Linked DNA regions of Homo sapiens. Each later gene encodes a partner of the first gene's protein in a complex. Each region holds a gene or a part of one and is shown on either strand. Other genes may lie near its edges. The genes, in order: CIRBP and TNPO3. A codon is read from its position in the direction of its gene.

What was found.
Region 2: the proteins of CIRBP (region 1) and TNPO3 are in contact, whole or in part, in a crystal structure (PDB 8CMK), measured with the Homo sapiens proteins. Residues at the interface, in NP_001271.1 of Homo sapiens: Tyr160, Arg161, Ser163, Tyr164, Asp165, Ser166, Tyr167, Ala168; in NP_036602.1 of Homo sapiens: Arg620, Glu660, Arg661, Cys663, Arg664, Arg667, Phe668, Arg671, Ser698, Cys699, Tyr702, Ser705, Ile706, Asp709, Glu710, Asp747 (codon at 3,444), Asp750 (codon at 3,435), Asp751 (codon at 3,432), Arg754 (codon at 3,423), Arg758 (codon at 3,411).

Annotation. Positions count from the first base shown.
Region 1 is NC_000019.10:1,267,086-1,270,993, reverse strand, and holds the start of CIRBP (cold-inducible RNA-binding protein), read right to left. Parts: upstream 1,663-3,908; 5' UTR 1,584-1,662; intron 1,170-1,583; exon of another isoform or gene 734-1,169; intron 128-733; exon of another isoform or gene 67-127; 5' UTR 61-66; coding exon 1-60. UniProt on the Homo sapiens protein: Cold-inducible mRNA binding protein that plays a protective role in the genotoxic stress response by stabilizing transcripts of genes involved in cell survival. Acts as a translational activator.
Region 2 is NC_000007.14:128,971,459-128,975,366, forward strand, and holds part of TNPO3 (transportin-3), read right to left. Parts: intron 3,505-3,908; coding exon 3,410-3,504; intron 1,125-3,409; coding exon 968-1,124; intron 1-967. UniProt on the Homo sapiens protein: Importin, which transports target proteins into the nucleus. Specifically mediates the nuclear import of splicing factor serine/arginine (SR) proteins, such as RBM4, SFRS1 and SFRS2, by recognizing phosphorylated SR domains.

The DNA.
Region 1 (3,908 bases):
CTGCTCATTGGTGTCAAAACTCAGCCCTCCAACAAAAAGTTTGCCTTCATCTGATGCCATGGCGGCCTGTGGCAGACACCAATGAAATCCTCAACAGGGGTCATCTCTCACCACCTCTCCCCGCTTCCTATTTTATGTAAATGACATGTGTTTTTTAGGGGAAATATTAGAAAATCAGATTTTTATTTTTCATTATCTCAAACTCATACCTAGGACTTATTTTTTTGGGGTCGGGGGCAGTGTGTCTAACTGTCACCCAGACTGGAGTGCAGGGGTCACTGCAGCCTCCACCTCCTGGGCTCAAGCAATCCTCCTACCTCAGCCTCCCAAGAAACTGGGACTGTAGGTGTACACCACCACGCCTGGATAATTTTTTTAAATTTGTTTTAGTAGAGATGGGGTCTTGCTCTGTTGCCCAGGCTGGTCTGAAACTCCTGGGCTCAAGCAATCCTCCCACCTTGGCCACCCAAAGTTTTGGGATTACAGGTGTGAGCCACCGCACCCAGCCACCTAGGACTTCTTAATTCAAATAATTTACTCCATCCACCCCCAAGACTGAAGGCAGGCCGCACCCATTTCCACAATGGGTGTCTCCCTTCCCCCACAGCCTTCCAGTTGTGCCCTGGGCAGGACTGCACTCTCAGGTTCTCCTATTTCCGAACGGGTGCCAACTCCTACCCTAACCAACTGACATCTACTTGTTGCTGGACCAGAACGTGCTTCTGCTCACTGTAAAATGCCTCCTGAGACTGGGGGGGGGGCTGGCTGTCAGGGAGGCCGCCCCGTCCTGGGGGGCACCTCAGGGCAGGTACTGACTTCCATAGCCAGGACCTAGGCCGGGAATCGGGAAGGGATGGCCCCGGAAGTGATAAGGCAGGATTTCCAGGCAGGGGAAGTGGCATTTAGGAGAACTGGCTATTTAAGGGGGCGGTCAGTGCTGACACAGACAAAGCATTCACTGGCTGGGAATGGCCGCCACCCAGTGGCTCTGAGAACTAGACTTGGAAGTCTGGCACTGGGAGCTGTGCCAACTTGGACCAAACTTTGGGCGCAAAGCACGACGTGGCAGACGAGGAACCACACTAGAACGGGCCACGCCTACCCAAGATTTACGAGGCCGTCCTTTCCCTCATGCAATCGCAATGGGAAAAGGAGGAAACTAAGGCTCGGTAAGCAAAAGCGTTGGTGTGTGGATACCTCCAGCCCCAAGGCCGGGAAAGCGGCCCTGGAGACCGGGGGCGCCACGTGGCCCCGCCCCCGCCGCGTGCGCATGCGCCCCGCGCGCACCCTGCGCCACTCCATCCGGGAACTCGGCGCTCCCGCCATTTCGCTGGGCACAGCCTCGAGCTCGCGGCCGCCATTTTGCGGCGGCAACCGGGTCGCCGGCGGCCCGGACCGGCGGGGAGAGGCCCTCTGGCCGCTACTCGGCCCAATCTCCCGCTGTCCCTCGCCGCCGGCGGGGCGGACTCCACCCCGGGCCCGCCCCCTCCCAGGGGCGTGCCGCTGCGGCCCCGCCTCGCCTGGCCGCCGCAGGCCGCCCGCCGCCCCGAGCTCCTCGGAGCCGGTGCAGCCAGGGCCCTCACCACTGAGTCGGGCAGGTCCCTGACGCAAGCGGGAAGACAGCGCACCACAACGACCCGAGCCTCCTAACGCGCGAGTGAGGGGGGGGCGTCCCCGAGCCCGGCCTTATATACGCTTCCGCCGGGCCCCGCCCCCTACACATCCTGGGCCAATCAGAGGGCGCGCCTGCGTCTTATATTCATGAGCTGGGGGCCGAGTCTATCTCGGTTCCGCCCCCTCCCGCGGACTGGTGTCGGGCTCGACTATTGGCCGAGACGTTTGCAGTCCGCAGTCCTCCACCCGCGCTCGAGGGGGCGTGACCAGCGCGCGGCGGGGCGGGGCGGGGCTGACCCAGTTACGCGTGCCTGCTCCCTGGCCTGCGGCGGGGAACAAATGGGCCTCTAGCCCCGATTCCCAGGCCTCAGGCCTCATGGGGACTTCTGGGTGTCACTGGGACCCCGACTTTGCCTGTGCTCCAGCAGTCCCGACATAACAACCTAGCCCAGATCCCCTACCCAACCAAGACCCGGCTGTCAGACATCCCAACTTCATCTGAACCCCGACACCTGTCGTGATATTCTTGCCAATACAACCGACGTCCCAGTTTTCCCAGCACCCCAGCACTCCATTCCTGCCATCAACCCCATGCCCACCAAAACCCCAACAGAGACAACCCCATTCATGCGAACCCCAATATTCGCAATCCCAATTCTTCCTACATCGCCACACTTTGGTGCACCCCAACTTTACGCAACCCAGTTTGCCTACAAACTCCAACCCGCACCCAAGCCTAACTCCCACTGGAACCGCGATTATCACGGCTGGGTGCGTGGCCCACACCCCCACACTCGCCTGGCCGGATAGTGTTGTGCGTCCCTGCTGTCGGGTGCAGGCGGACACCCCGAGTCCCCACTGCACCCCAGCACTCCGCCCGGCCCTCGGCCTCCCCTCCCACCGTGCTGCACAGCAACGGCGCACTCGCTCCCCACGCGGGGCCAGGCCCACTCTGCTCCTCCACCCAGGCCTTTTCTCTCCTTCCACAGGCCTCCCCTACTGAGCCTGGTTGGCGGAGGGGAGTCTTAAAGCCGCCGCCATCTGGAGAACCAGCTTTACAAGGACCCTCACTCACTACTCTTCGGCGGCCCCAAAGCCTCTGGGGGGCCCTCTATGGCCACCACTTGCTCCTCGCCCAGGAGTCATCTCATGCCGCCGCCTCCCCCAGCCCTGGTGGAAGAAGCCAGCGCGGACCCCTGCCTCTCTGCCCCAGAAAGTCTTCGGAGGGATGACCCTCTGCTGACAAGCTGGGGGAAGTTGGCGTACAGAGACCCCCGCTTTGCTGCTCATCCCAGGGAAATCCCGGCCCCACTCCTGACCTCAGACTCACTTCCACCCTCAAGTGGATCGAGGTGGGGGTAGCCAGGGGCGCTGTCTCCAGTGACAAGGTCTCTGGGACCCCTCATGGGCTCAAGACCCCCTCCCCCAGGCAGCAGCTGTGTGATTCATCACCACCCCCTCTGCACCTCGGGCCCCCCCACTACAGCCGCCCCACTCCCCGTCAGCGGCAGCCGGCTGCTGCGTCAGCCACTCACGCAGGGTGGTTATTAAAGGAGAGAGACATCAGCACCGAGCTCCCCTGCGCCCGCCGTCCATGCGGGAGGGGCCACCCACCCACTGGAGCCCCAGACGCGGGCGCCACATGCCCAGCCTGGGAGCAATTCAGGCCCATTCTTTCTGATCTGCGCCCCCAGCCCCCAGCCCCAGCAGTCAGCGCGGTGGACGTTCTCTGACCCAGAGCAGCCCTTGTAGGGGGGGAGTTGGAGGGGGTGCCTGGTAGTCACAGCGGCCCCTGCATAATTGCGTAATTCTTGCCGCTCCCCCCAGCCCATCGTTCCCTGGTTCTGTGAGCCTCTGCCTTTTCCTGGTTTTGCGAAGCGCCGTGTTCATTCATTCATTCATTCATTCAGCCAGTGCCTAGTTATTAAGCGCTTACTACGAGCGGGTTCCTGGGTGCGGGCTCCGTGAGTGTCCGCAGCCATCCTGGGTTCCCAGGGTGGCGTTGACACGCACCTGCGCACACCTGCCGCTTTGCATCTGTGCCGAGCACTGTGCACCGGCTTCCAGGTGTGGACCTGTGTCGGTACCTGTGCCTCTGGGGTCAGCTGCGTCTGCGAGCACCCGTGACTCCCAGGTATCTCACCGCGATCCTGTGTCCCCACCGGGGGTCTCAGGCGGCTGGGACCCCTTCATCCACCCCTGCTGGCCACTGACCATGCGGGACCCGACCGGGACGCGCTGCCCGTTGCGGACACCAGGGGGCGCTGCGGCCTCGCTCCGTCCGCGGCGTTTGG
Region 2 (3,908 bases), on another chromosome or scaffold:
TTAAATACACATGTATTTCTAATACCTTGAGAAAAATATTTTTTAAATTGCCTTTCCCTTCTAGTTATTTTCTTCTCTCTTTTACTGCCAAACTTCTTAAATGAATAGCCTAAATAGAATGCAGAATACTTACTTCTTCACTGCTCTCCCCTGTCTACAATTCTACTCCACATCTAATCAAACCTACCTTCGAAATTCCTGTGAAGCACTTTACTACTCCCACTGCTTAGTTGTCTACTAACAAACTTAGTACTATTCTGACTTGCTCTGATCTTGGCTTAGAGGCAGTATGACTATCTGCCTCTCTAATCCATCAAAATTCTACCTCTAATTCATGGCTTCATTTAAATCCCTCCCCTTCCATAAAGTTATTCCAACTCTTTTTGGTCTAGAGCTTTCCCTCGTCTGATCTCATACCAATCATGACTTTTATCACTCATCTGACAATCAAATACTGGAGGCCAAGGTGGGAGGATCACTTGAGGCCAGGAGTTCAAGACCAACCTGGGCAACATGGTGAAATGCCATCTCTACAAAAAATATAAAAACTAGCCAGGCATGGTGTTGAATGTCTGTAGTCCTGGCTACTCAGTAGCTGAGGATCCCTTGAGATTCACATCACTGTACTCCAGCCTAGGCGACAGAGCAAGACCCTGTTTCAAAAACAAATGAAAAACACCAAACACTGGCATCTTGTTGTTACTTAACTCTTTAAACTTGTTTCTCTCTTCAACTAGACACCAAATGATTTGGGAGCATGAACAGTTTTAGACTGCTTTATATAGCCTAAAGCACCCAGCACAAGTGTCTTAGTTGATATTTTGGCTAGTGAATGATCCACTATGATATATGTCTACCAATATAGATCAAGTAAGGAAATACTGGGATGCTGGTTTTCTCCTAAGGAATGACAAAGAGATAGGAGATAAAAGCTGTTAAGTAGAAATGGTATCATTTTTATACTTACATCATTGGCTACCCCTGTATGAATGAGGTCTCGTAGAAACCTCATGACACTACAATTGGCATCCCGGTGGTCCAGGGTAGTAGAGGCAATGGCCCACTGTAAGATAGGGATGACCACTTGGCTCCGCAGCAAGGTGACAGGGCTACGCTGAATAAACCTGGTGTGGAAAGTGAGACTAGGTATAAATGACAAGATTAGGCTATAAAAGCAGCCAGGGTAAAAGGGCAAAACTATGAAGACAGTAAAAAAGATCAGTGGTTGGTGGGGGGTTTCAGGGAAGAAGGGATGAATAGACAGAACATAGAGGATTTTTTTTGGCAGTGAAAGTATTCTGTATGATACTATAACAGTGGATACATGTCATTACACATTTGTCAAAACCCACAGAATGTACACCAAGAGTGAAGCCTAATGTAAACTATGGACTTTGGGTGATAATGATGTGTTCATATAGGGTCACTGTTTGTATTACTCTGGTGGGGGATGCTAATAGAGGGGAAGGCTGTGTGTGTTAGGAGGGAGGGGTATATGGGAGCAACTTTTCACTCAAATTTGCAGTGAACCTAAAGTTGCTCTTTAAAAAAAAAGGACCATATCTTAAGATTAGTATATTAAAAGACGTGTCACCACATCCTATTTCCAACTAAGATTTTATAAATCAAGAAAGACCAGTCAAAAGGACCTACAAGTAGAAACTCTCCTAGGTTAAAAAGTCCTAAAGATGCTAGAACAGCATTTCCCAAACTAAAGTTCACAGAATTCCAGTTCCCAGGATGTCAACAGGAATCCCTCAAAGAAAAGGTTGTGTGTTCAGGTAAGCTTGGGAAATGCTGCTGGATTTTGAAAGTAGTTTTGCTTGTTTATTTTTTCCTTTAAACTACTATCAGGTTTCTAAGTTCCTTTAATATACAGGGAGAATCTCTTCAGAAAAAGGTACAGTATACTCCAAACTTGTTTCATCATTTGTATAAAGAACATTTTTAGGGACTAGTTTTCCAAGGAATACATACCCTAAGAAAACAGAGGGTGTGCCGGGCGTGGTGGCTCAGGCCTGTAATCCCAGCACTTTGGGAGGCCGAGGAGGGTGGATCACGAGGTCAGGAGATCGAGACCATCCTGGCTAACACAGTGAAACCCCGTCTCTACTAAAAATACAAAAAATTAGCTGGGTGTGGTGGCGGGTGCCTGTAGTCCCAGCTACTCGGGAGGCTGAGGCAGGAGAATGGCGTGAACCCAGGAGGCAGAGCTTGCAGTGAGCCAAGATCACGCCACTGCACTCCAGCCTGGGCGACAGAGCGAGACTCCGTCTCAAAAAAAAAAAAAAAAAAAAAAAAAAAGAAAACAGAGGGTGACAGCCCATCCAACAATTCTATCAACTGAAAAAAAAAAAAAAAGAAAAGGAAAAAAAAAGGGTTTTTCTAACCTATCCAAAAACTAACAAAAAAAAAGGGTTCAATATTCAATCCTGCCAGGTACGGTGGCTCACGCCTGTAATCCCAGGACTTTGGGAGGCCAAGGTGGGCGGATCACCTGAGGCCAGGAGTTTGAGACCAGCCTGATCAACATGGCAAAACCCCGTCTCTACTAAAAATACAAAAATTAGCTGGGCATGGTGGTGGGCACCTGTAATCCCAACTACTCGGGAGGCTGAGGTAGGAGAATCACTTGAACCCAGGAGGCAGAGGTTGCAGTGAGCCGAGATCATGCCATTGCACTCCAGCCTGGGCAACAGAGTGAGAGTCCATCTCAAAAAAGAAAAAAGAAAAAAAATCAATCCTAAGATGAAACAATCAAGTCAACATTACTTTGCATTTGTAAATGATATAACAGTTGGGCTTTTGTTGTTTCGAAAATAATGATTTTTCTTTTTTTTTTTTTTTTAATGCTGATATGGTAACAGTTTTGGTTCAAATTCCTTAGTTAGGGACTAAGGAATTCAAGCAGAAGTTTGGCAATCATATTATCAGTGCTACTGATAAAGTAGGCTGTGAGTAGAGCTGAGAAATACAGTATGAGATAACTGCTAAGGCATCTTAAAATCCCAAACATTCTTTATTCCGAAACTGATTATATCTAAAGGATGCTAAGCTTCTCAAAGAGAAGGTTGAGGTGAAACATGAAATCGCAACAGCACGAACAGTTAAAACCTACAGAGGACTGTAGAGATGATCTAGTCAAGTGTTTTGCCAGGCACACTGCATTGTCTTGTGTGTGAGCCCTCCTTCCTGGCAGGAACTCAGCTCCTTTATCCCTTGCTTCCCGCAATACTCTGCGTCACTGCTGGGGATATATCAGCTTGCAATTTACCTTTGGGTTATGAATCATTAATCTACTTACTCCAGTGACTTCATTTTACAAGAATAAAACAACCAAGGGTCAGATGGCAAGACTAAGCAGTGATAGGATGAGCAATTAAGAAATGGGCTCTTCAGAAGGATTTACCTGGTGGCTAGCCGGAACAGGTCATCTACAGTGTCAGGGTGATTCTGGAGACCATTCTGCTGTTCTAGGAGCTGAAAGGTGGGGATGCACAGTGCCTAAAACAAAACAGTGATTTTAAAAGAAATGCTTTTTCAGAAATGCCACAGCATTCAGACTTGCCAAATATTTATTACAATAAGTACAAAAGGAACAAAGAAGAAAAGCACAGCTGGGAAAAGAAAAAGATTGTAATGAGAATCTGATCAGGAAAAGAAACACATAAATCCTTCCCAGTTGACATAAACAGTTTTCACCTATGAAGTCCACATTTAAGAAAGGGTTGAGAAAACAGATTTTAGCTGATAAAACTCAACAGATGTCATCTCAAAGTTTTAGAAATTTCTGAAAGCAAAGATTCTATTTAGGTATAGTCCACTAAGGGAGTGGAAGTTTTTATAATAATTATGAAATATCAATTTTAAATGAAAAGACATCTTGGGAAAAGAAACAACATTCTTCA